Linked DNA regions of Homo sapiens. The protein of the gene in region 1 purifies or fractionates together with the protein of each later gene. This does not show direct contact. Each region holds a gene or a part of one and is shown in the gene's direction. Other genes may lie near its edges.

Region 1 (3,500 bases):
GTGGTTGCATGGGGAAGTGGGTTTGTGCATGGTTTATGTCAGACCAGGCTTGATAATTAAGTCTAATTAGCCAGGCAAGGAAGATGGTGGAAGGGGAGGGAATTTTCTGAGTAGAGAGAATAGCACATGCAAAAGTTTGCAGATAAGAGCTTGATTTTATTCAAGGAACTCTGGATAGTTAGGTTTAGTTCTAAGAGGAAATGGAATGGGAGATTGGAGTTTTGGGGGAGGTGGATAGGATATGATGCTAGAAATGTACATAGATCCAAATTATGTAAAATGGTATGTGCTATGCTGAAGAGATTGTCATCTTGCCTTGACTTTAGGACAGATTTCTCTATTTCTGCAAAAAATGTTGGGATTTTGGGATTTGGGATTTTGATAGGTAATGCATTGAATCTGTAGATTGCTTTATATAGTATTGACATCTTAACAATATTGTTTTGTAGTCCATGAACACGGGATACCTTTCTATTAGTGTCTTCTATATTTCTTTTTTTTTTTTTTTTTTGAGACAGAGTCTTGCTCTGTAGCCCAGGCTGGAGTGCAGTGGCGCGATCTCGGCTCACTGCAAGCTCCACCTCCTGGATTCATGCCATTCTCCTGCCTCAGCCTCCTGACTAGCTGGGACTACAAGCACCCGCCACCACGCCCGGCTAATTTTTTGTATTTTTAGTAGAGACGGGGTTTCACTGTGTTAGCCAGGATGGTGTCGATCTCCCGACCTCGTGATCCGCCCGCCTCAGCCTCCCAAAGTGCTGGGATTACAGGCGTGAGCCACTGCGCCCGGTCTATATTTCTTTTTAAGATTTTTTAATTTTTAATTACTAATTTTTAGAGATGAGGTCTTGCCTCATTGCCCAGGCTTGAGTGCAGTGGCACAATCATGGTTCGCCGTAGCCTCAAATTCCAGGGTGCAGGCAATCCTTCCGCTTCCACCTTCAGAGTAGCTAGGACTACAGGCATGCACCACCGAACCTGGCTAATTTATTTTTTTATAGAGACAGGGATCTCATTTTGTTGCCCAGGCTAGTCTCAACTCCTGGGCTCAAGCAGTCCTCTGACCTCATTGGCCTCCAAAAGTGCTAGGATTACAGGTGTGAGCCACCACACCTGGTCATTCTATAATTTCTTTCAGCAACATTTTCTGATTGTCATTGTACAAGTTTTTTGTCTCCTTGGTGAAATGTATTCTTAAGTATTTTATTCTTTTGATGCTACTGTAAATAGAATTGTTTTTTTAATTTGCTTTTCAGATTGTTCATTGTTAGTGTATAGAAATACAACTGGTTTTAGTGAGTTGATTTTATATTCTGCAACTTTCTTGAAACTCTTGATTTCTATTTTTGTTTTTTATGTTTTGAAACAGAGTCTCACTCTGTCACCCAGGCTGGAGTGCAGTGGCATGATCGCAGCTCACTGCAACCTCTGCCTCCCAGGTTGAAGCAGTTCTCCTGGCTCAGCCCCGCAAGTAGCTGGGACTACAGGCACGCACCACCACTCCTGGCTAATTTTTGTATTTTTAGTAGAGATGAGGTTTCACCATGTTGGCCAGGCTGGTCTTGAATTGCTGACCTCAAGCAAGCCGCCCATCTCGGCCTCCCAAAGTGCTAGGATTACAGGCAGGAGCCACTGTGCCTGGCTATTTATAAGCTATTAATTTAATAGAAATAAAATATTTGACAGATTTCTTCTTCCTATTCTTTGGTGTTACAGGATCTTCATGAAATCCCTATTTTACAGTGAGGAAGCATCAAGAAACAAATGGTATACTCTTTAATAGGAACAATATGCCATATTTATCAAATTATAGAATATATAAAGCTTGCAAATATTATGTAGTAGATAATTCCTTTAAAGTGTACTCCTCATGGTTATGTTCTAATCACATTCCCACAAAAGTTTCTATACTCTGAATAACTTTAAGGGAGGAATACAGTAATTGTTGGTGTATATGATAAGGTCCATGTGTTTTATGAATATTAGGTATTGGATATATGAGCTCATAAGAGAAGATAATCTTTGGTACGTTATATTGATCATGCCACTTTCCCAATTTCAAATAACTTATGGATTCTTAAAGGTATTAAATGAATAAGTACTATTTTTTAAGTAGATATGTCATTTTAAAACATTTTGGTTTGGGCCATGCCTTCGTCAATATGTTCCACATAGTTCCATATAAAATTAGAGTCTCTATATGATAACATCAAAGACATGCCTGAAGGGAACTTAATTTTTTTAAGGAGGTGGGGAATCCATTTGTAGAAACCAGTGTAAGAAGCTGTTTGAAAGACATCAAACATGGACTTGTCTGGACTTTGCAGGTTTTAAGGTATATATAGGAATCAAAATTGACTCATGACTTTTAAAGCTTCATGTCAGTAAAAAATAAAAGAGAAATGTTGGGAATGGTAATATTTGAGATATATAGTTTTTACTTAGCTACAGAAATGTACCCATAGGAACTTGCTTGAATCTGAATGCTCTGCTACACGTGTTTAGAATTATTTTTGCCTCTTTTGCCAAAACATAATAAAATGATAGCAAAATATGACAGTATGTGCACTGATCACAACAATATAATAAACTGCATCCATGTCTTTTAAAACTAGGCAAGAATAGACAAAATGCTCTAATTTCTGTTGGAGACTAGCAATATGCAAACCAGACCATTTTTGTTGAAAAATTCTGGAGACATTTATGACCGAGTTTTTATATCCTTTAAGATAATTTTATCCTTTCATGATTGTATCATTTCATGATATGTTCCTTTTGTGACAAATGCTGCTAGTATCAGTGTCACAGATTGTTACTGATGATATACAGTGTTTATGCTTTAAATTCCGAACTCACAGAATTTAATGGAAACTTCAGAATTCTTTAAATTTCAAAAGTTTTAAAGCATATTTATTTGGGTACAAAATTTTATTGCCTTTAAAAATCTTTTTCAGTATCAAGTTTATTATCAAAAGCACAAATAATAAAATAGAATTTAAAATATTTATTTTCAGAATACCACTATTTTAATAAATGATCTTTTGCCTATGCCAGCGTCTGCTATTAACATCTAGCTAATATATTTTCTGTGTCTAGTAAATATGGTAATCAGTTTCAAAGAAAACTAGGTAGGTTTTGTGAGGCAAAGTTGAAACACCTTGAAGAAATGGGAAAGTTTGGGGGCTCTAATAGGACAGGATAAATATTTCTTGATTCATTTTTTAATTGCTCCATTTATTTTCTATACATAGAATCAAAAATTCTAAAAAGAGAACATTATCTTAAGACTGCACAAATTAACAGTGAAAGGAATTGTCCCACTCATTATTAAGAATGCTGTCAGGCTGGGCACAGTGGCACACACTTGGGAGGCCAAGGCAGGAGGATTACTTGAGTCCGGGAGTCTGAGACCAGCCTGGACAACAAAGCGAGACCCTGTCTCTACAAAAAACATTTTTTTAATTAGCTAGGCATGGTGGTGTGTGCCTGTGGTCCCAGCT
Region 2 (3,001 bases), on another chromosome or scaffold:
ACGCCGTCTCTACTAAATATACAGAATTAGCTGGGTGCGGTGGTGCATGCCTGTAATCCCAGCTACTCGGGAGGCTGAGGCAGGAGAATCGCTTGAACTCAGGAGGTGGAGGTTGCAGTGAGCCGGGATCATGTCACTGCACTCCAGCCTGGGCTACAGAGTGAGACTCCGTCCCCAAAAAACAAAAAAAAAACAACAAAAAATACTTTGGCTGTGAGCCGGGATTGTACCACTGCACTCCAGCCTGGGCGACAGAGTGAGACTCCGTCTCCCAAAAACAAAACAAAACAAAAAATACTTTGGCTGAGCACAATGGCTCACCTGAGGTCAGGAGTTCGAGACCAGCCTGGCCAACATGGTGAGACCCCGTCTGTAGTAAAACTACAAAAATTAGCCGGGCATGGTAGCAGGCACCTGTAATCCCAGCAACTTGGGAGGCTGAGGCAGGAGAATCCCTTGAACCCGGGAAGCAGAGGTTGCAGTGAGCTGAGATCGCAGCATTGCACTCCAGCCTGGACAACGGAGTAAAACTCCATCTTAAAAAAAAAAACAAAAAAAACAAAAAAACCACAACAAACTTTTACCCCAAATCTAAATGATAGAAATCTTTGTTCTTTTCTTTCTAGACATATGGAAAGTTGATCATGTGCTGGAGCGCTTGCAGAGTGAAAGCCTGGTGAACAGAAGGAAACCATGTCATGAACATGATGCATTTGAAAATATTGTTCATTGCAGCAAAAGTCAGTTTCTGTTAGGGCAAAATCATGATATATTTGACTTACGTGGAAAAAGTTTGAAATCCAATTTAACTTTAGTTAACCAGAGCAAAGGCTATGAAATAAAGAACTCTGTTGAGTTTACTGGAAATGGGGACTCCTTTCTTCATGCTAACCATGAACGACTTCATACTGCAATTAAATTCCCTGCAAGTCAAAAACTCATCAGCACTAAGTCCCAATTCATCAGTCCCAAGCATCAGAAAACACGAAAATTAGAGAAGCATCATGTGTGCAGTGAATGTGGGAAAGCCTTCATCAAGAAGTCTTGGCTAACTGATCACCAGGTAATGCATACAGGAGAGAAACCCCACAGATGTAGTCTATGTGAGAAAGCCTTCTCCAGAAAGTTCATGCTTACTGAACATCAGCGAACTCATACAGGAGAAAAACCTTATGAATGCCCTGAATGTGGCAAAGCCTTTCTCAAGAAATCACGGCTCAACATACATCAGAAAACACATACCGGAGAGAAACCCTATATATGCAGTGAATGTGGAAAAGGCTTCATCCAGAAAGGAAATCTCATTGTACACCAGCGAATTCATACAGGTGAGAAACCTTATATATGCAATGAATGTGGAAAAGGCTTCATTCAGAAGACGTGTCTCATAGCACATCAGAGATTTCACACAGGAAAGACGCCCTTTGTGTGCAGTGAATGTGGAAAATCCTGTTCTCAGAAATCAGGTCTCATTAAACATCAAAGAATTCACACAGGAGAGAAACCCTTTGAATGTAGTGAATGTGGGAAAGCCTTTAGCACAAAGCAAAAGCTCATTGTCCATCAAAGGACTCATACAGGAGAGAGACCCTATGGCTGTAACGAGTGTGGGAAAGCGTTTGCGTATATGTCGTGTCTGGTTAAGCATAAGAGAATACACACAAGGGAGAAACAAGAGGCAGCCAAGGTGGAAAATCCTCCTGCAGAGAGGCACAGCTCATTACACACCAGTGATGTCATGCAGGAGAAAAACTCTGCTAACGGGGCGACTACACAAGTGCCTTCTGTGGCCCCTCAGACATCATTAAACATCAGCGGCCTCCTCGCAAACAGGAACGTAGTCCTTGTGGGACAGCCAGTGGTCAGATGTGCAGCCTCAGGAGATAACAGAGGATTTGCACAGGACAGAAACCTTGTGAATGCAGTGAATGTGGTTGTGCCTTCCGTGATCAATTATGTCTTATTTTATGTTACAGAAAACCCATAGGAAGAAAACTCAGATCTATGTGGAAAAGGGTTGAGCAAAAATTTGTAGTTCATTATGTGGCCGAAAAGCATACACTGAGAGAACATGTATAAGGCTGAGATAGCCTGATAAACTCATCCTATTAAAATGTATGCTGTGATACACAGGCAAATTTGATGTTAACCTAAGCACATACACAGCAATTGCTCGACTGTGTCAATTAAATGAGTAAAGGAAGCCCAAGTACTTTTAAGTGGAGGAAATGAAGTACTGTGAATTTTTAAAACAGATGAGATAATTGGTGTCGGGAGTGTTGCAGTGACTGAAAAGCTTCATAAGGGGCAGTTGGTGGGAAAGGGCTAATACTGTAATGGTGGAATGTGGGACACATATGTGTCAATTCAGTTTCCTTAGACCAGTGCCAGTGTGGAGGATTAATTGAAAACCAGGACCATAAACTTTCAGAACTTTGTATTATGCAGAGGGATCTGTGAAACTAGTCAATTTGTTTCATTAAACAAATATTTTAAAATTATTTCCTTTGTACCTTGTCCTGTTCCAGGAGCTGAGGTCAAAGAAGAAAAAGTTTGTGGTCTCCTGGAGAGTTTGTGGGGTTAATTTTAAGTGGTATCATTACACTCAGGCAATCTAGTCAGGCGGTGCAAATATCTACATTAGGTGAAATGGACATGGAGTAACTGTGTCCAGGGGACGCGATAATTTATTGTTCAAGGAGTAGCAGAAGGACTGCTGTTAATGGTACTTAAGCACCTTAGTACAAAAAGGAGGGCTTTTTGTTTGTTTGTTTTTGCCCGTGTCTTATCTCTCCAAGAGATTACAAATTCCCTGCTAAGTTTTGTAGCTACTTAAATTTTAGAATTAAAGAAACTGAACACAAAATTTAAAAATTCAGTTCCCTCACTGCTCAAGAGCTGTATATGTGAGTAGAGGCTACTAAACTGGACAGCAGAGTGAACAGAACTTTCAGACAATGAGGACTCTTTGTCATTATTTCCAACATCCCAGAAAGTTATG
Region 3 (3,396 bases), on another chromosome or scaffold:
TCTTTTGTCACTAACTGTGATCATTTTTTGATATCAATGCATAGAGCTCTACAACGTCATTTTTAATAGTTGCTAAATTATTGTATTATATGTAAGTACCATAATTTATCCAGATCTATACTGAAATCAGGTTATTTTTTCCTACCATGAACAATGCTGAGACGAACATCCTTGTACATAGGCATCTTCTTGTGCTTATGTTATTATTCCTTGGGGGAAATGCCAGCGTGTAGAATTGCTGGGGCAAAGAGTTAAGCGCATCTCAGTTTGGTAGATCTTGCCAGGGCGTTCTCACTGGGCCATGCCATCCCGCACTTCCACCAGAGGTCACGAGGTGCTTTCCCCTTACCCTCAATGAGTTTTGTCCAATTTTGCCTTTTCCTGGTTGTCAGGAAAAGGCTTCTAGTTTCCATTCAAATATTTTTGCTAGTGAGGTTGAGCATCATCTTTTTATATGGCTTTGTAATTCTTCCTGTGTAACATGATGTTTATGTTCTTTGTTCATTTTTCTAATTTCTCTTCTCTTTAGATTGGAGAAATGAAGGCAGAGGTCACCAAACTACATAAAAAATTGTTTGAACAAGAAAAGAAGTTGCAAAACACCATGAAGCTTTTGCAGCTGAGCAAGCGCCAGGAAAAAGTCATCTTTGATCAATGTGAGTGAGTGTGGGGGTGGCCGCTATGCCTGACCACTTCCTGCCTCCGAGGGCTCCCAGTTCTGCCCTGGATTACCCACTTTGGAGCCCAGATGGTTTGTAATCATGCCTCCTATCTGTGGGCTTCTTTTCATACTCCATCCTTTCTGACTCACATAGACAAATGTATTCACTTAACACACCTTTGTAGAGCGGCCTTTTGGTGTCAGGGACTGTCGTCTCACTGGGAGACAGTCGTGTGGCATGTGCAGTGATGGGAACATGCAGAGCACTGGGGTGGGAGTTGGGTGGCCGTCACTCTGTCCCGGCAAGGTGGGCGTCTTAGACAAAGTGACCACCTCGCTGAGTGTGAAATGAAAGCAGACGTCGTCACATGGAGCGGGGAGTGGCAGTCCCTCAGGGAAGAGCATGGACAGAGGCACAAAGGCAGGAAATAAGTTTTTGTATGTGAGAAACCAAAACCAGTCCCTGTGGGGTAAAGGCTGCAAACAGTGAATTAAGGTGGGAGGGATTGGGGGTCAGGGAGTACTTCATGAAAGACTGTAGGTGGCAGGCTCAGGGCAGAGGATTGGCCTGTCACATCTGTGTGCAAGAATGGCTCGCTGGTGGCTGCTCCACCAGTGAGGGGGAGGCTGACTCACTAGTCAGACAGGAAAGGTGGCTAGGACGCTGGGGATCCAGAGGAGGGCATGGATTTGAGAAATACTTCTCAAGGCAGATGCCGAGACTCAGGGTTGGTGAGGTTAAGTAACTTTTGTAAGGTCAGTCCCAGTTCTGATCTAGCCACTTTGGAGATTGTTTGGGAGCAGCTCTGTCTCCTGGTTTAAACCCTCAGCACTCCCTCCCGCTGCATTTAGAGGAGCAGGCGGTAGCTGAGTTTCCATTAGTGCCTGTTGGCAACATGGCCCTGGCCAAGCCTGCGCTGTCTGTGTGTCAGTTTCCCTGTCTTAAGAGAACTGCTGACTGCAGCACTTTTTCTCTGGAGGTGCCAGCCTGCCTTGTGCGGCTCTCCTGTCAAAGTCCAACATTTCTGGGGCATTTCTGAGAAGCACAGGACAGAGATTATTGCCAAGTAGGAGTTCTCCTTAGCCACCCCTGGGAACCTTCTGAAAATAGACTCTGTGAGACTGCCAGTGTTTGGACTGCAAAAGAGAGGAGCGCAGCCACTGAGCAGGCACTGAGTTCCTGTTCTTTGCCCCTTACGCCAGGTCCTGGGGACAGAGATGAACGAGACAGTCTTTGCCAGTGAGGGTCGTGGGCTTAATAGGGGAGACACAGAGCTTAGCTGCAGGACGATGTGCTGAGTGCATCCTAGGAGGCCTGAGAGGTGGTTCAAGACTGACTGGGTCTTGAAGAATGACTAGGAATTTGTCAGCGAAGGGGCAGGAATAGGATTCTGGCAGATGGCCCTGTGGACTTGCTGGTGTGCTCCCAGGGGTGAGAGAGAACTGAGTGCTCAGGGACATGCTTAGGACGTGCAAAGGGTTTTCCTCTGAGAGATGAGTGAGAGGGAGAAGCAGGAACCAGGTTGCAAGGAGCCTTGTGGACAGGACTCCAGGACGAGCAGCAGGGACCGGCGGGGTCCATGCGTGTATTACAAGATCCCATGGCTGAGCTTGGAGGGGCCAGGAGGCCGGGAAGACCTCTTTGGGGGCTGCAGCAGTCCCCCAGGTGGGCAGTGGGTCAGGACTGTGGGGGAGAAGGGATGGTTTTGAAAGATTGTAAGGAGGTCAACCTGGCAGAGTGGTGGATGTCTGTGGGGTTCTGGTTGAGGGTTTCGTGTCACTCGTAGAGAAAAAGAGCACTGAGGGGAACCTGGAGAGAGACAGTGCCAGCTGTGGTCCTGTTAAGGCAGCTGTGGAATATTTAGGTTAGACTCTTGGAGCAGCAGTGGGGTGGGGAGCAATGCTCTGCATAGGTCTAGAGAAAGGCAGAACTCTCTGCATTGGCATCTCTCCTCCTCAGCAGCCTTTGGCCCTGAACAGTCACAGGGCAGGTAGCTAACCCTATTGACAGGTGAGAAAATTGCAGAAGTAGGTTTCGATGGGTTGAGTACTGTGGTCGGTCAAAAGGACAGAACTAGAACCCAGATCCCCTGTGTCCTAGGTCAGAGAACATGGAATTATTGATTGAGCACAGTTCAGATCTCCATTCTCCTATGTGACCTGCATTAGACTAGAACCCTAAGCTTTCGATTCCTCATCTCTAACTGGAGACGTGAGTTCCAAAGGACTCAGACTAACTAGTTGGTCCCGGGTTCAATAGCAACTTTATAAAAAGCACCCCAGTTTTCTCATCTGTAAAATAAGGATGATAACGCTACCTAAACTGTATTGTACTTAGCACAGTCTCGGGGGCAGAGGAGATGCTCAACCAGTCCCTCCTCTTTCTTTCCATTAGGCCAGACCAAATCCTATGCATGGAGGTGGCAAATCATTCATAGTAAGAAGAGCCGCAAATGTCTCATAGCACTTCCCCTCCTGAGCTGGTATTGTCCATCTCCATATCTCCTAGGCCTGGCACAGAGCAGGCTCCGCCAGAGCAGGGTGAGGGGCTTGCTCCAGGCAGCATAGCTGGTGGCTGACCCGGGCCTGCAACTCCTCCTTTGCCAGGCTCTGCAGCTCATCCCAAGGAGTCAGGTCCTTGGAAATTCTCCAAGCCCTGCGGACTTCACAGACCTGCTCTGGGTCTAAAGGGACTAGGAGAAAGTTGGCATAGCACCTCCTCTTCCTCCGTCCCC
Region 4 (3,500 bases), on another chromosome or scaffold:
TGAATCTTTCGTGACTTTTACTATTGATGTTAAAGTTGTTAAAAATTTTTGTGGAATGATTTCATATTTAGAACAAATATGACATGTGGGAAACTAATCATGTTGGCTTGATAATGGAATCAGTTCTTAAGTAATTTTTATAGATGTTTAATAAATAACATTATTAAATGTTATAGATGTTTAATAATGTTATTTATTAAACATCTTATTTGTTTATTGTTATTTATTAAACAACTATTAAATGTTATTTAATAGTGTTATGTATGGTGTTAGTGATGCTTATTTTCATAATAGATAACTGAATATATTATGTGTATACATATGTATAAAACAATGTTTTATATATACATACACATAGATGTCTTAGAATGATTGAAACAGTTATGATTTTTCATTTTGAGAATTTTTAATATTTGGCAAGTGCAAGTAATTCTTTTTTGAGATGGAATCTTGCTCTGTCACCCAGGCTGGAGTGCAGTGGCACAATCTCGGCTCTCTGCAACCTCCGCCTCCCGGGTTCAAGCAATTCTTCTGCCTCAGCCTCCCGATTAGCTGGGACTACAGGTGTGCGCCACCACACCCGGCTAATTTTTTGTATTTTTAGTAGAGACGGGGTTTCACCATATTGGCCAGACTGGTCTCGAACTCCTGACCTCGTGATCTGTTCACCTCGGCCTCCCAAAGTGCTGGGATTACAGGCGTGAGCCACCACGCCCAGCCAAGTGCAAGTAATTCTAACAGCTTTTAGTGAAATTCCATGTCTTAAAAATTGTCAGTTTGAATATTTAAATTAAGTAGTGTATTCTGACATGAAGTTTGCTATCGTGTTAAGGAGAGAAAACATCTTTAATTGACTTCTGTGTCTTCACAGGAAGTTATTCACGTGAATTTATTTTGTTGCCTATAAAACACTATGCAATAACTTTTACCTTTTCCCCTTAACTCCCTCAAGTCCCACCAGAGCTATGTGAAGTTGCACTCATGTAAATTGTTATTAACTGTTTTGCAAACAACCTAATACTTGTAGTTCCCTTAATTTATATATATATTCAAGTATACCAACTGAATTGCCCTTTTCTTATAATAAATGTGCTTTCATTTCTAATAAACAACCTTCAAAGTAGTAGGAAAGATATTAACGTCTGAGCATAGGAGTTGATATGCTTTCTCATTGAGAAATTAGTCTCTAGAATTATAATCAATAACATGGTAAAGGAAAAAATGGCGAAAATATTAGAGCTGTGCCTAAAACTTTCCATAGTTTGAGCCTATGGCAAGTGAACATTTGGTTTTTATTACCCTTTTAAACACTAAATATTAATACATTATCTTATACAGAGGCCTTCAATAAATAAAATATTTATAGTAAACTACTGATGAAACACCTTTCATTATGGTAGAAATTCTTTTCAGATTACTGAGAAATGCAGTTCTCAAATTTCTGCGTAAGTTTTGCTTAATTCATTAAAGCATATGCAACTAACTTGCAACATACTTTTTTTACTGCTTGTATTAGAAATTCTTTTTGTACTTAATATTTGTTTAATTACTTGATCCATTAGTTCAATTGTAAATGACTTCCTTGTTGAATTTGTTCATTCAGTTTTCATGATCGTTTGAAGAGTAATCTAGACCAGTGTTATCCAGTAGAACTTTCCTGTGACAGTGGCAACAGTCCTGTATATGTGCTGTCTAATACAGTTGCAACTAGCCACATGTAGCCAATAAGCTCTTGCAGTGCGGTCAGTGTGACTAAGAAACTGAAGTTTTAATTTTATTTAATTATAACTGACTTAAATTTTTTAAGGCCACATGTTGCTAGTGGCTACTACATTGAATAGCACAGATATATCTACTTTATTTTCATTTAGTTTTCCAAGTTACAGTAAGTGTATTTTCTAGGTAAGTGTTCTAATTTTACAAACTCTTTGAAACCTATGGTAAAAAAAAATAATAATGCAAAAGCAAACTCTAAAAATTAATTTACTAAACTATTTGTATTTGATTTTTATTGCATTTATCTGAAACATTGGGTGGCTTTATTGAACATACCACAGACCATTTCTCCTCATTTCTGGAGACAGTTTCATTCTAAGGAGAAACATATGTCCTAAAGACCCATGAACTAATACTTATTTTGAGATTGGTCCATAAAAAGTTTTTGTTCATTTTTAAGCAGCTGATTTAGAAGAAAGTTTTAATGAACATGAACTGGAGCCCTCATCACCTAAAAGTAAAAAGAAAAGTCGCAAAGGAAGGCCAAGAAAAACTAATTTTAAAGGGCTGTCAGAAGATACCAGGTCCACATCCTCCCATGGAACAGATGAAATGGAAAGTAGTTCCTATGTAAGTAAAAAAAACTGTTGGATTCTTACTTTTGTTGCACCATGAATATTTCATTTAAACTATCTATAGGTAAAGTTCATCATTTGAAATGTTAAGTAAGCTTGAAATACCGATAGCATATTTTCATGATTTTTTTTAAGTTCGTTTTTTCTTTTACATTTGCAGAGAGATAGGTCTCCACACAGAAGCAGCCCTAGTGACACCAGGCCTAAATGTGGATTTTGCCATGTAGGGGAGGAAGAAAATGAAGCACGAGGAAAACTGCATATATTTAATGCCAAGAAGGCAGCTGCCCATTATAAGTGCATGGTAAGCATGGTTCTTTTAAGCCCAATTTTGTTTTTTTGTTGTTTGTTTTTCTTTGTTTCCCCTGTGATCTAAAGCCCAAATGATTTTTTTTTTAAAAATCATTTAGCTAGTAACCAAAAAATTTCCCCCCACCAGCATTAGTATTTTAGAGTTATAAACAGTATATCTTATAATCCCAAATCTTAAGTTTAGATTTTGTTAAATTATAGCCTTTATGTTTTAGTAGGATTTGAAGTAATTCTAATTATAGTTACTGTAGTTAGGATAATCTGTAATTAATTATTTCATAACTATAAAAATTTTGTCTTTATAAGCATGTCATGAAATATATTTTAGACTTTCACTATAACCTAATAATTATCTCTGTTGTACTTAACACTCTATATTACAATTATTCATTTATGAACTTATCTTCCCTAACAGACTCTTAAATTCCTTGAAGATAAGAATAAGTTTTTATCTTGACATCCTTAGGTCCATGCCTGACTTACAGTACACATAAATATCTTTGACTTAGATTGTATTGAATGACTCATCCCATTGATAAGGTTTTTAAAATTACATTATTTATGTCAGAGATTCTTAACCAGAGTGCATGTCAGATTTACCTGGTGAGCTTTTTCCGAAATATGTGCATCTAGGCACCCTGTGGAATAGATCTCGTATATGTCTAGTTTGAAAAAAAAAAATACGCGAGTGATTCTAATCTGCATCTATGGTTGAAATTTGCCAATTTAAACTATTTTTTAAAACTTTGTGGAAATGTAAAATAGTTGAGAATAGAGTGACATTGTTGAAATTTTCATTGCTTAAAGCAGGCTATTTAATCTTGGCTCCACACTGGC
Region 5 (3,500 bases), on another chromosome or scaffold:
CCAAAAGTAGCATGGAGAAGCCAGTGGCACAGGAGCCTGAAAGGATCGAATTTGGTGGCAATATTAAATCTTCTCACGAAATTACTGAGAAATCTACTGAAGAAACTGAGAAACTTAAAAATGACCAGCAGGCCAAGATACCACTAAAAAAACGAGAAATTAAACTGAGTGATGATTTTGACAGTCCAGTCAAGGGACCTTTGTGTAAATCAGTTACTCCAACAAAAGAGTTTTTGAAAGATGAAATAAAACAAGAGGAAGAGACTTGTAAAAGGATCTCTACAATCACTGCTTTGGGTCATGAAGGGAAACAGCTGGTAAATGGAGAAGTTAGTGATGAAAGGGTAGCTCCAAATTTTAAGACAGAACCAATAGAGACAAAGTTTTATGAGACAAAGGAAGAGAGCTATAGCCCCTCTAAGGACAGAAATATCATCACGGAGGGAAATGGAACAGAGTCCTTAAATTCTGTCATAACAAGTATGAAAACAGGTGAGCTTGAGAAAGAAACAGCCCCTTTGAGGAAAGATGCAGATAGTTCAATATCAGTCTTAGAGATCCATAGTCAAAAAGCACAAATAGAGGAACCCGATCCTCCAGAAATGGAAACTTCTCTTGATTCTTCTGAGATGGCAAAAGATCTCTCTTCAAAAACTGCTTTATCTTCCACCGAGTCGTGTACCATGAAAGGTGAAGAGAAGTCTCCCAAAACTAAGAAGGATAAGCGCCCACCAATCCTAGAATGTCTTGAAAAGTTAGAGAAGTCCAAAAAGACTTTTCTTGATAAGGACGCACAAAGATTGAGTCCAATACCAGAAGAAGTTCCAAAGAGTACTCTAGAGTCAGAAAAGCCTGGCTCTCCTGAGGCAGCTGAAACTTCTCCACCATCTAATATCATTGACCACTGTGAGAAACTAGCCTCAGAAAAAGAAGTGGTAGAATGCCAGAGTACAAGTACTGTTGGTGGCCAGTCTGTGAAAAAAGTAGACCTAGAAACCCTAAAAGAGGATTCTGAGTTCACAAAGGTAGAAATGGATAATCTGGACAATGCCCAGACCTCTGGCATAGAGGAGCCTTCTGAGACAAAGGGTTCTATGCAAAAAAGCAAATTCAAATATAAGTTGGTTCCTGAAGAAGAAACCACTGCCTCAGAAAATACAGAGATAACCTCTGAAAGGCAGAAAGAGGGCATCAAATTAACAATCAGGATATCAAGTCGGAAAAAGAAGCCCGATTCTCCCCCCAAAGTTCTAGAACCAGAAAACAAGCAAGAGAAGACAGAAAAGGAAGAGGAGAAAACAAATGTGGGTCGTACTTTAAGAAGATCTCCAAGAATATCTAGACCCACTGCAAAAGTGGCTGAGATCAGAGATCAGAAAGCTGATAAAAAAAGAGGGGAAGGAGAAGATGAGGTGGAAGAAGAGTCAACAGCTTTGCAAAAAACTGACAAAAAGGAAATTTTGAAAAAATCAGAGAAAGATACAAATTCTAAAGTAAGCAAGGTAAAACTTGTCTTAACTTTAATTAAAAATATTTGTCTCTATATATTAATAGGTTTTTTGGTTTTGTCTAAAACTTAGTCATCAAAGACAACTGACAAAGTATCTTTCTTCCTCTGTCTGAGATACCTTTTCAGACTTTATACTCTTACTTATACTCTATACTCTTGTCATCTTTTAACTTTTTTAAGAAATTAAAAGTAGTATAGGAATATATTCTCCTTGTAAACTATTCAAATAATATCCAACCTGTAGAATTATAGAATGAGAATTCCCCATTGCCACTATTAACAGTTTGGGGATAATTGCCACTATTAACAGTGTGGGGTATAGTATCTTTGCAGTCTTTTTTTTTTTTTTTTTTTTTTTTTTTTGTGAGACAGTCTTGCTCTGTCGCCAGGCTGGAGTGCAATGGCACTATCTCGGCTCACTGCAACCTCTGCCTCCCTGGTTCAAGCGATTCTCTTGCCTCAGTCTCCCAAGTAGCTGGGACTACAGGAGCGTGCCACCACACCCAGCTAATTTTTGTATTTTTAATAGAGGTGGGTTTTCGCCATGTTGGCCAGGATGATCTCGATCTCTTGACCTGGTGATCCGTCCACCTCGGCCTCCCAAAGTGCTGGGATTACAGGCGTGAGCCACCGTGCCTGGCCCTCCAGTCCTTTTTCATGCATTTATGTGGATGTTCATAAATATTTACTTATTTAAAAAAGAAATTGGATCAAATATGTTCATTTTTCTGTGAGTTTTTCACTTAAAGTGTCTCTGAACTCTTCATGTCCGTAGATATAGTATCCCTTTTGCTTGTTAATGGCCACACAGTACTCCATAGTGTGGATATACCTCAGTTTATTTAACCACTCACTTACTGATTGACATTTAGGTTGTTTCCAATTTTTCACTATTACAGGCAATGCTGCATTGAAGATCCTTTTGGACATGAGTGAGTATTTCTTTAGAATAGACTCCTAGAATTGGAATTGCTGGGTCAAGGGACATGTATATTTTAAGTTTTGATAGCTACTTCCACATTGCCCTCCAAAAAGGCTCCATTAATATAGCATCTTATTACCAGTGTATGACAGTGCCTGTTTTCCCCATTTTACTCATTAATGTTGGTATTACTCATCATAACTATGACCCTGTTATTTTAAGCAAAATATTTTACAAGTCTTTTGCTAGTCTATGGGAATTTATCATAATCAAAAGTGCTACTTTTCTTTTTAATGTATTTAAACGATCAGATCATTCTTCATTGTAAGTGATCCTGTGTTCCCTGAGATACTGAATTTTTAATGTTTTCTTCTTTTGTTGTTAGACTTATTTTGTTCTTTGCTGACGACCTATAGTGTAGGAATAAACTAAAACACAAGTTAAAAGAGTATAAAACTACGCAATAAAAAGCTGTTAGTCACATTATAAATTTGCTCTCTGAATGTATATATTTTTACATTTGTCAGGATTTTTATATGCAGTTCTGGCTTATTTAAAATTTAAAATTTATCTCTAATACAGGATTTTAAATTTTTACATGAAAATATGTGAGAATATAGTCATCATTCTCTTACAAAGCATTTAAAATGTGCATGACCTTTGACCCAGAATCCTCTTCAAGGAATTTATCCTAACCACAGAGATGTGTGTAAAAATATTTGTAAAGATACAGTACATTGTTGACGAAAGTGAAAAACATGGGAAACAACTACCTAAATGTCTAGTAGAGGATTAGATAAAAACAGTTATGTAATGGCATTTATAGTAATGTTAGGAGAATGTGACTAGGAAAAATATAAGACCAAATGTTCATTATAATTCGGTTTTAAGAAAAAAGTAAACAAAAATGTAGAAAAAATAGTGGAAATATATACCAAAATTTAACCATAGCTATATCTGATGATGAGACTATAATAATTTTCTCCTCTTTTTTTGGTATATTGGCTGAATATTATTATACAATGGACATGTAATCAGGAGATTTTTAAAAGACATTCTTATATCAAA
Region 6 (3,500 bases), on another chromosome or scaffold:
AGAATGTGTCCTATTTGCTGATTTCAAGATCTACAGGTAGTGGTAGAATTCATGGTAGCTTTAGTCACAAATCAGTGTGTAATTAGTGACCTAAAGAACATCACACTTCTATTCCAGCCTTTTCTAGCAATATGGTTCCTACTGGATTTCAAAGATTACGCTCTGGTAAATTTTAAAAGTATCTACTGAAATAATCCCAATAGAAGTTTCTTTCAAAATATGGCTATACTCAATAGCCCACTTGCCTTAGGTGTTAGGGGGTATATGAGTTAAGTTCTGTCGTTTACCTGAGTAAAGATTTTAAAATGTTTTTAAACATTGGAAAACATTTTTGTGAAGTACTTTTCAGTAAGCTTAGCGTGTTCATAACGCTCACTTTCTTGCAAGCTAGAAGCATTTAGATTATAGTGTTGGATTATAATATCCTGCTTTTCTCCTCCAGTTCTTTGTCAAGAAAGACAATTTACTTTATCAGCAGTGCCATCGGTTTACTGCTGCCTTCTGTGTGCAGGAGTGTGGAGAGCTGGAGGCTTCTGGGAAGGCTTGTGTTTGTGCACACACCCCATTCAATTGGAACGGTGATTTGCTGTTAGTAGATTAGAATTTCTATTTTGCTGTATTCTGTTATTAACGTCTTTATTGTTACAACCACTTTAACGATTACTGATGAGCAAATTGGTTTTAAGGGATGTAAACCTGGTTTAAAGTATTATTCATTGTCTTAGAGTTTAAGGAAGTGTTTTGTCTAGTGTGTTAGCAGTTTCTAAGTCAAGAGCTGAAGGCATTTGCTGTCAGAGATAGCCCTAGGATGCCCAGCATTTTTGTTTTGGAGGGTCATAAGGAGAGTGAGTATAAATCCAAATAGTGCAGTTTTTTTTTTGCTTGTGCTGATCAACTTTATGGTGTGATTAAATACGATTTTTTTTATTACGCTCTTGAAATTGTACTCTTGAAGTTGCAGAATGGCAATTAGATGGCAGTCGCTGATAGCCATGTAGAAGTTTTGATGAACATGCAAGTTAATTTTAATTTCTGATCAGTTACGGTTAGTGACTGTGGCCAAACGTGTGTACTGATTCTACACGTGTGCTAATTCCGTGACATTTATTCACCAGCTATGTGTCGAGTGCCTAATCCTGTGTCAGGCACCTTGTTCCAGGCATTGGGGGCAGCAGTGGACAAGGCAACAGTCTCCATCCTGAGGTGTTACTTTTAGAAAAAGACAGTTACAAGCAAACAAACAGGATGGTTTTAGATCTGGACAGAGGTTTTCAGAGGAAGTCATCCTTGAGCTGTCACAATACTTTGGGGGGGTAGGGTGTGCTGGGTAGTCAGGGATGGCACATTTGGGGTGCCTAAGGATTGCTGTGGCCCTGGGAGCCTAGGACAGTTGGTCACAATTGACTATTAGAGTCAGTCTCAGAAGCTTTCCTGGAGAAAGAATTCTGCTGTTTTGCCAGGAGGGTTTCCTTCCCCATCTGACCACACAAGAAGACCCCTTGGCCTAGAATGCCTGCCCTCATCTCCAGGTCTCCCAGGCTGTTCACCCTCCCAGGCAAAGTGGAAGCTTCCTCTGTCCTAAGATCGTTTCCCACTGAACCTCCTTCATTGTCCTTCACCGCAGTGAAATAATCCTACAAGGTCTTGTGTGGAGAGTGATGGTAACTTCTTTAACCCAGATAATTGAGAATTGGAACCAAAACATCTTTCTATTAATAAATATTTTCAGTAACTAAGTTATGCTGTTTCCCTGAGTGGGAAATAACACTCCATCATATTTCTTATTTTTTTGGGCGGAGAGGGGAGACTTGCTCTGTTGCCCAGGCTGGACCAGTGGTGCGATCTTGGCTCACTGCAACCTCCACCTCCTGGGTTCAAGTGATTCCCAAATAGCTGGGATTACAGGTGTGTATTACCATGCCCAGCTAATTTTTGTATTTTTAGCAGATAAGGGGTTTCACCATGTTGGCCAGGCTGGTCTCCAACTCCTGGCCTCATGTGATCCACCCACTTCGGCTTCCCAAAGCATTGGGAGTATAGGTGTGAGCCACTATACCCGTCCTCACATCATATTTCTAATCCCGAGACTGTAGAGCTGGTGTCTCTTTTTCTAAAGGATGTCAGTAGAGAAGTGGAGTTCCCCAAAATTACAGTTTCACGTATTAGTCAAGTTTCTAAAATACAGTAATAATGTTGAGAGCTGACATAGGGACTAACTTAGTTTTTTTTTTTTTTTTTTTTTTTCAAATTCTCACTGAACTTTGATTTTGCTAAATAAGGACATTAAAAAAAAAACCAAAAAACTCCACTATTGCCTATTGCCACTATTTGATTTTTTAAAAAATAAGCGTATTTTAGCATCTAAAAGTAGGAAGGACCTCAAATAAATGAGTCTTTGTTCTTGGCCAGGGAAAACAGCGTTGTCAGAATTTGATAACTGTTTTTCTAGGGTATGTGCTGTTATTCAGTTAAAACCTTGCCTGGGACGCTAGCATTCAGTAAATACTTGTTGAATAAGCAAATGAAACTTAAGCTTCTATGTATAGAAACCTAAGTCACTTCACATTCTGATTAGCAGAGTAATTGAATATTCTTTTCAATGTGTAGCTCTATCCCCAGAACCACAGAATATTGGAACTGTAAAGGCCATCCTATAGTTTAACCAACTGCGTTAAATAGATAATAGAAAGATGTGGTATGTGGCAGTGACAACTTGAAGGTTGTGACTAGAACTCGGGTCTCTGGAGTGTTCTATTATATCACACCAAGCTGGTCACCAGCCCATGTGTTGATCCTCCATTGTGATAGCAACAAAGAAAAGACTTCAGGACATTCTTTCCTTTACCCTAATCCTTGATCTGCAGTCTTATTTAGAAAAGCTTAATGTTAAAGATCTAGTTTATTCAAAACTAAAGATAACAAGGAGTATGAGAATTTCTATTTCGGAGTGTAAAGGAGGAGATGTTTCCTTGGCTTCTCTGAGCCTGCAGGCCTTCCTTGCTCTTTAAGGAAGTAGAGAGAGGGAGGAAAGTAAAGTATGCTTTTGTTTTTTAAGGTTACTTTGCTGGGAGTAGTTTGCATGCCTTTTGGTTTTCTTGGGTGGAATTAACTGACTTAAGTTTTAAGTAGTTGGGACTATTTAAAAACAATGCCTATCCAATGTTTGCCATAAAGGCAGAGGGTATTGGCTTTAGAAGTTAATTCTTCTCCAGGAGTGAAAATTAGCTTCTAAACCAGAAGCAGCAGAGCTAAATAAAGTAATTTTCCACCTGGCCAGTGCATGATGTGAAAGGTAGATTAAAAAAATGAGAGGGCCCATTTTCTGATGAAAGACTAAGCCATGTTGAAACAGCCCTGTTGAGGATTTTATTTTAAATCTATACATTCACAAAGGAGCTTTGTGTATGTCTTTCCCTATTTGTTGTTTGGACTAGGAAGCCCCACCCAGTGCTTGTTGAAGGCAGAAAGTCGTTGAAAGCAAGCTGGGATTTGAACAGTGG
Region 7 (3,500 bases), on another chromosome or scaffold:
CAATTTATAAATTTTGTAAAAGGTTACTTCTGAGGCAAATTTAAATTAACGTATTAGTTGGATTATTTATATTTTGATACTTTATAGTGGCATGGTATAGGATGAAGTTACATTATATGAAGTGGGACTATAAGAATTGAAACTGCATTTCGTGAACCACACCCTAAGTCAGTCATCACTTTATTTTGTACTCTACCCTGAGGTATCTATTTAGAATAAATGCTTAACACATCAGCACTAACACATCAAGTTATATAAGGTTTTAGATTATCTTTTCCCTATTCGTGTTTGTGAACATCTTTAGATATTTATTAGTTCAATATTGACATTATGAGAATAATGTTTTGTTTTCTCAGCAGTCTTGTGTTTTAGCCATTTATCAGTGTGATCAGCATGATTTAGGTATTAACTGACTAACAAAGCTTACACATTACCACCACCTCCCCCTCAAGCCCGTGTTGACCTTTTCAAGCATTTGCTCTACTTCAGTAGGCCATTTGAGTCTTCAAGTATGAAGAGAGTAAATAATTTATATCACTATGTAGTATAAATTGGTAAAAGTTTTTCAGAACTAGCTATCTGATTTTTTACAAAGTTATTGAAGTTAATCAGACAAATTGCTATCACATCTAGTTGACAGTGCTATATTTAGCAAATAATAAGTAATTCTTGAATGAGCTACTGAAAAAATAAACCACCTTTTTATGCCTTCAAACTCAGAACATATTAAAAAATAAATTTCATTAATCTTCAACACTTGATTCTAATTATCCCTTTTGTAGGCAGAATTGCAACAAGAATTTCTTCTGTATTATTTTTTCATAGATATATTCCATAGTATAATATGTTTGTAGGTTTTAATGGTAACTAGTTTACTTTGGCACTAAATTTGAGTGTATATCTAGCAAAAAAATTGGTGTGATAGAATGTATCAAACTGAATTGGCGTAACTTTTTTTGTATAACTGTCTACGTAATAGTAACAGGTTAGTATGAAAGCAATTAAAAATATTTATGGATAAAAATAATTGTTAAAAGTTTTCTACTTCTTTCAACTTAAGTGCTTTAAAAATGTTAAGCTGTTTAGACAATAACTCTTTTTTAGTGATCATATTAATGAGGACTTGGTATACAATGTAATCCTTTTAATGCTGATGAGTCCTCACAATGTTTAAACCATTATTTGTGAGACTCAACATGTTATGGCAAAATGATTTTTTGTTTGTTTTGTTTTCTTTTATGTGATACATCAGTTTTCAAAGCATATTTCTTAGGCTTCAGAGTCCAGCAGGTGGCTTTTTACATTAAAAAATTCATAAATTTTAAAATCCCATAAAATTTTATTTCAAATTCAAATTAACTAATTGAGAATGTCAACATTTTCACTGTCTCTATATTAACATTTATAATAGAACAAATGGTTGCATATAGAAATTATCTGCAACAGTCTAAATTAAGATTCTAAACAGGCATTACAGATGCTGGTAACTTTGGCAATTATCATTTTGTTTGGTGAACAGTAGTAAAACAGTGTGCGGTAAAAGTGTTTAGAGAGAGAGGATAAATAAATTGAACAGTTTTGCAATGCAAAGTGGTTTGTGGTGTTTTTGAGGATTTCTTGGCTCTCTCTTAACTGCTATTGTGAGCCTGGAGCAGATTTCCCCATTGCTAATGCCCTAGAAGTATTAATTCACTTTGATATGCTAATTAGAGGGCATTATGCAAGAAATGAGATTAAGTGGCAGCATGAAGCCATTTGCCTGTCAGTAAATTGAGAGCTTTAGCATCAGGAGGAGCTTTGTTTTTTTTTTTTTTTTTTTTTTGAGTTTCTCTTGGTTTTGCATATAAATAAAATTGATTGAAAGGTCTAGAGAAGCTTCCAGAACATTGGTGGATTCTTTTTTCCCCCTCCTATGATTATTTAAATGAAATGTTACAGGATTTTTCTGAATATTAATTGACCTAATTGGAGATACTGAATATAAAGTTTTTATTGTAATGTTTCTGTATAAAAATATACTAAAATTTTTGTGTCACCTAGTCTTTTTTTTCCTAAAACATAATTTCATTAACATGGCTAATGAACTGTTTATCACTTATCTCTTCTCAGAAGTGTAAACTTCTGTGTATGGGCTTGTGCACCAATGTCACTAAATTGAACTTCACAAGGATATTTTCTTCACTAGGGAAGGAAGGAAGAAGTTGAATTGGGCTTCAGAAAACTATATTAAATGAGTATTAACATTCTGACTTGAATCCATAAAAGCTGTAACAATTATAATTCATGGTTAAACTGCCCTTTATACAACCTGTGGAATTTATATTTCAGCATATATCTTATAGGTAAGATTACTGATGACATTTTGTGTGGAAGATGGAATTTCATACTGGATTCAGATTTTGTTGACTTTTGTGGCCTAAGCTAGGCCTCTGAATTTTTCTCTATAAAGCTATTTTGTGATATTTCTTATATTCTGGGGAGAAATACATGAATGAATACTAGGATTGCTGTGGGGAAAGGGAGGAAGACAGACCTTCTGTGCCTACAAGAAGGTTAAGGTTTACTCAAACATGGAACTTCTATCTATAAACCATGCATAGAGGATGGAATTGCAAAATCCTGGCCTAACTGTATTTGCTGGGTATGGTTAGAAGGAAGAGGGTTTGGGTAAGGCATTCCTACTGGGGTTTAGTTCAAGTGTCTGAATTCCACCACTGTAGCTGTGACTCTGGACCCAGTAAACCATATCTTCTCTTCAGAGCCATGTGGATTATTTAGTCACCACAGCTGCCATGCATGCATACTACCAAGGCAGGCATCTCTTCGGTGTGCATGTGTGATGCCTGTTAATGGTAATGTGAGTTACGAATGTGCACAGAAAGGAGGATGAGTTTCTCCTGAGACAAAAGTCCTGATTACATTTCGCTGTGAAGACGACTTTTAGTGTACCTACCACATTAGCTGCTTTTCTAAATGAAACACTTGGTTACTTTAAATTCTCACTCCCTTCTCTGATTCCCTGAACTAGTTAAATCAGTGAATCCTCATTAGTCTCTGATTACTTGCAAAATTTCATTTAAAACATATGAAGTTATTTTTGATTGAAAAGGGAACAAAAAGCTTTTGAAATTGCATGTTATTATTTAAACAAAGGTTTCTACAGGCTTTCAGATGTACTAAGCCCTGCAAATAATTTATAGAGGAATTATTGGGAAGGACTTATGAAATTCTTGAATGGCATTTGATGGGGAGGAAATCATTGCATTAAAAAATATATATATTTGAAATGGCAAGCTTAAATGTGCATCTTACCTTTACTATCCAAGTGTCCTTAAATGAGGAAGAATTGACTTAGGTGGTCTTACAAGTTTCATTTTTCTTTCTTTTCTCCTCCCACCATTGTTTTTTTTTAAAAAAAAAACTACAGGTGAAGGTTGTTGGAATTCATAGTCAGATATATCATTTTCAACTTGGAATAGGAACTAGAGCAGGAAATTGAT

What was found.
Region 2: the proteins of RBBP8 (region 1) and ZNF350 purify together in Homo sapiens (affinity purification with western blotting; one study listed by BioGRID). This does not show direct contact.
Region 3: the proteins of RBBP8 (region 1) and CDK5RAP2 purify together in Homo sapiens (co-immunoprecipitation; one large-scale study listed by IntAct). This does not show direct contact.
Region 4: the proteins of RBBP8 (region 1) and PHF6 purify together in Homo sapiens (affinity purification with mass spectrometry, with the first as the bait; one study listed by BioGRID). This does not show direct contact.
Region 5: the proteins of RBBP8 (region 1) and RSF1 purify together in Homo sapiens (affinity purification with mass spectrometry, with the first as the bait; one study listed by BioGRID). This does not show direct contact.
Region 6: the proteins of RBBP8 (region 1) and ZNF217 purify together in Homo sapiens (affinity purification with mass spectrometry, with the first as the bait; one large-scale study listed by BioGRID). This does not show direct contact.
Region 7: the proteins of RBBP8 (region 1) and PBX3 purify together in Homo sapiens (affinity purification with mass spectrometry, with the first as the bait; one large-scale study listed by BioGRID). This does not show direct contact.

The regions. Positions count from the first base shown.
Region 1 is NC_000018.10:22,939,828-22,943,327, forward strand, and holds part of RBBP8 (DNA endonuclease RBBP8), read left to right. Parts: intron 1-3,500. UniProt on the Homo sapiens protein: Endonuclease that cooperates with the MRE11-RAD50-NBN (MRN) complex in DNA-end resection, the first step of double-strand break (DSB) repair through the homologous recombination (HR) pathway.
Region 2 is NC_000019.10:51,963,840-51,966,840, reverse strand, and holds the end of ZNF350 (zinc finger protein 350), read left to right. Parts: intron 1-626; coding exon 627-1,987; 3' UTR 1,988-2,501; downstream 2,502-3,001. UniProt on the Homo sapiens protein: Transcriptional repressor. Binds to a specific sequence, 5'-GGGxxxCAGxxxTTT-3', within GADD45 intron 3.
Region 3 is NC_000009.12:120,391,772-120,395,167, reverse strand, and holds part of CDK5RAP2 (CDK5 regulatory subunit-associated protein 2), read left to right. Parts: intron 1-529; coding exon 530-656; intron 657-3,396. UniProt on the Homo sapiens protein: Potential regulator of CDK5 activity via its interaction with CDK5R1. Negative regulator of centriole disengagement (licensing) which maintains centriole engagement and cohesion. Involved in regulation of mitotic spindle orientation.
Region 4 is NC_000023.11:134,411,312-134,414,811, forward strand, and holds part of PHF6 (PHD finger protein 6), read left to right. Parts: intron 1-2,176; coding exon of another isoform or gene 2,177-2,179; coding exon 2,180-2,346; intron 2,347-2,511; coding exon 2,512-2,655; intron 2,656-3,500.
Region 5 is NC_000011.10:77,698,723-77,702,222, reverse strand, and holds part of RSF1 (remodeling and spacing factor 1), read left to right. Parts: coding exon 1-1,502; intron 1,503-3,500. UniProt on the Homo sapiens protein: Regulatory subunit of the ATP-dependent RSF-1 and RSF-5 ISWI chromatin-remodeling complexes, which form ordered nucleosome arrays on chromatin and facilitate access to DNA during DNA-templated processes such as DNA replication, transcription, and repair.
Region 6 is NC_000020.11:53,583,840-53,587,339, reverse strand, and holds part of ZNF217 (zinc finger protein 217), read left to right. Parts: exon of another isoform or gene 1-588; intron 589-2,245; exon of another isoform or gene 2,246-3,500.
Region 7 is NC_000009.12:125,753,873-125,757,372, forward strand, and holds part of PBX3 (pre-B-cell leukemia transcription factor 3), read left to right. Parts: intron 1-3,500. UniProt on the Homo sapiens protein: Transcriptional activator that binds the sequence 5'-ATCAATCAA-3'.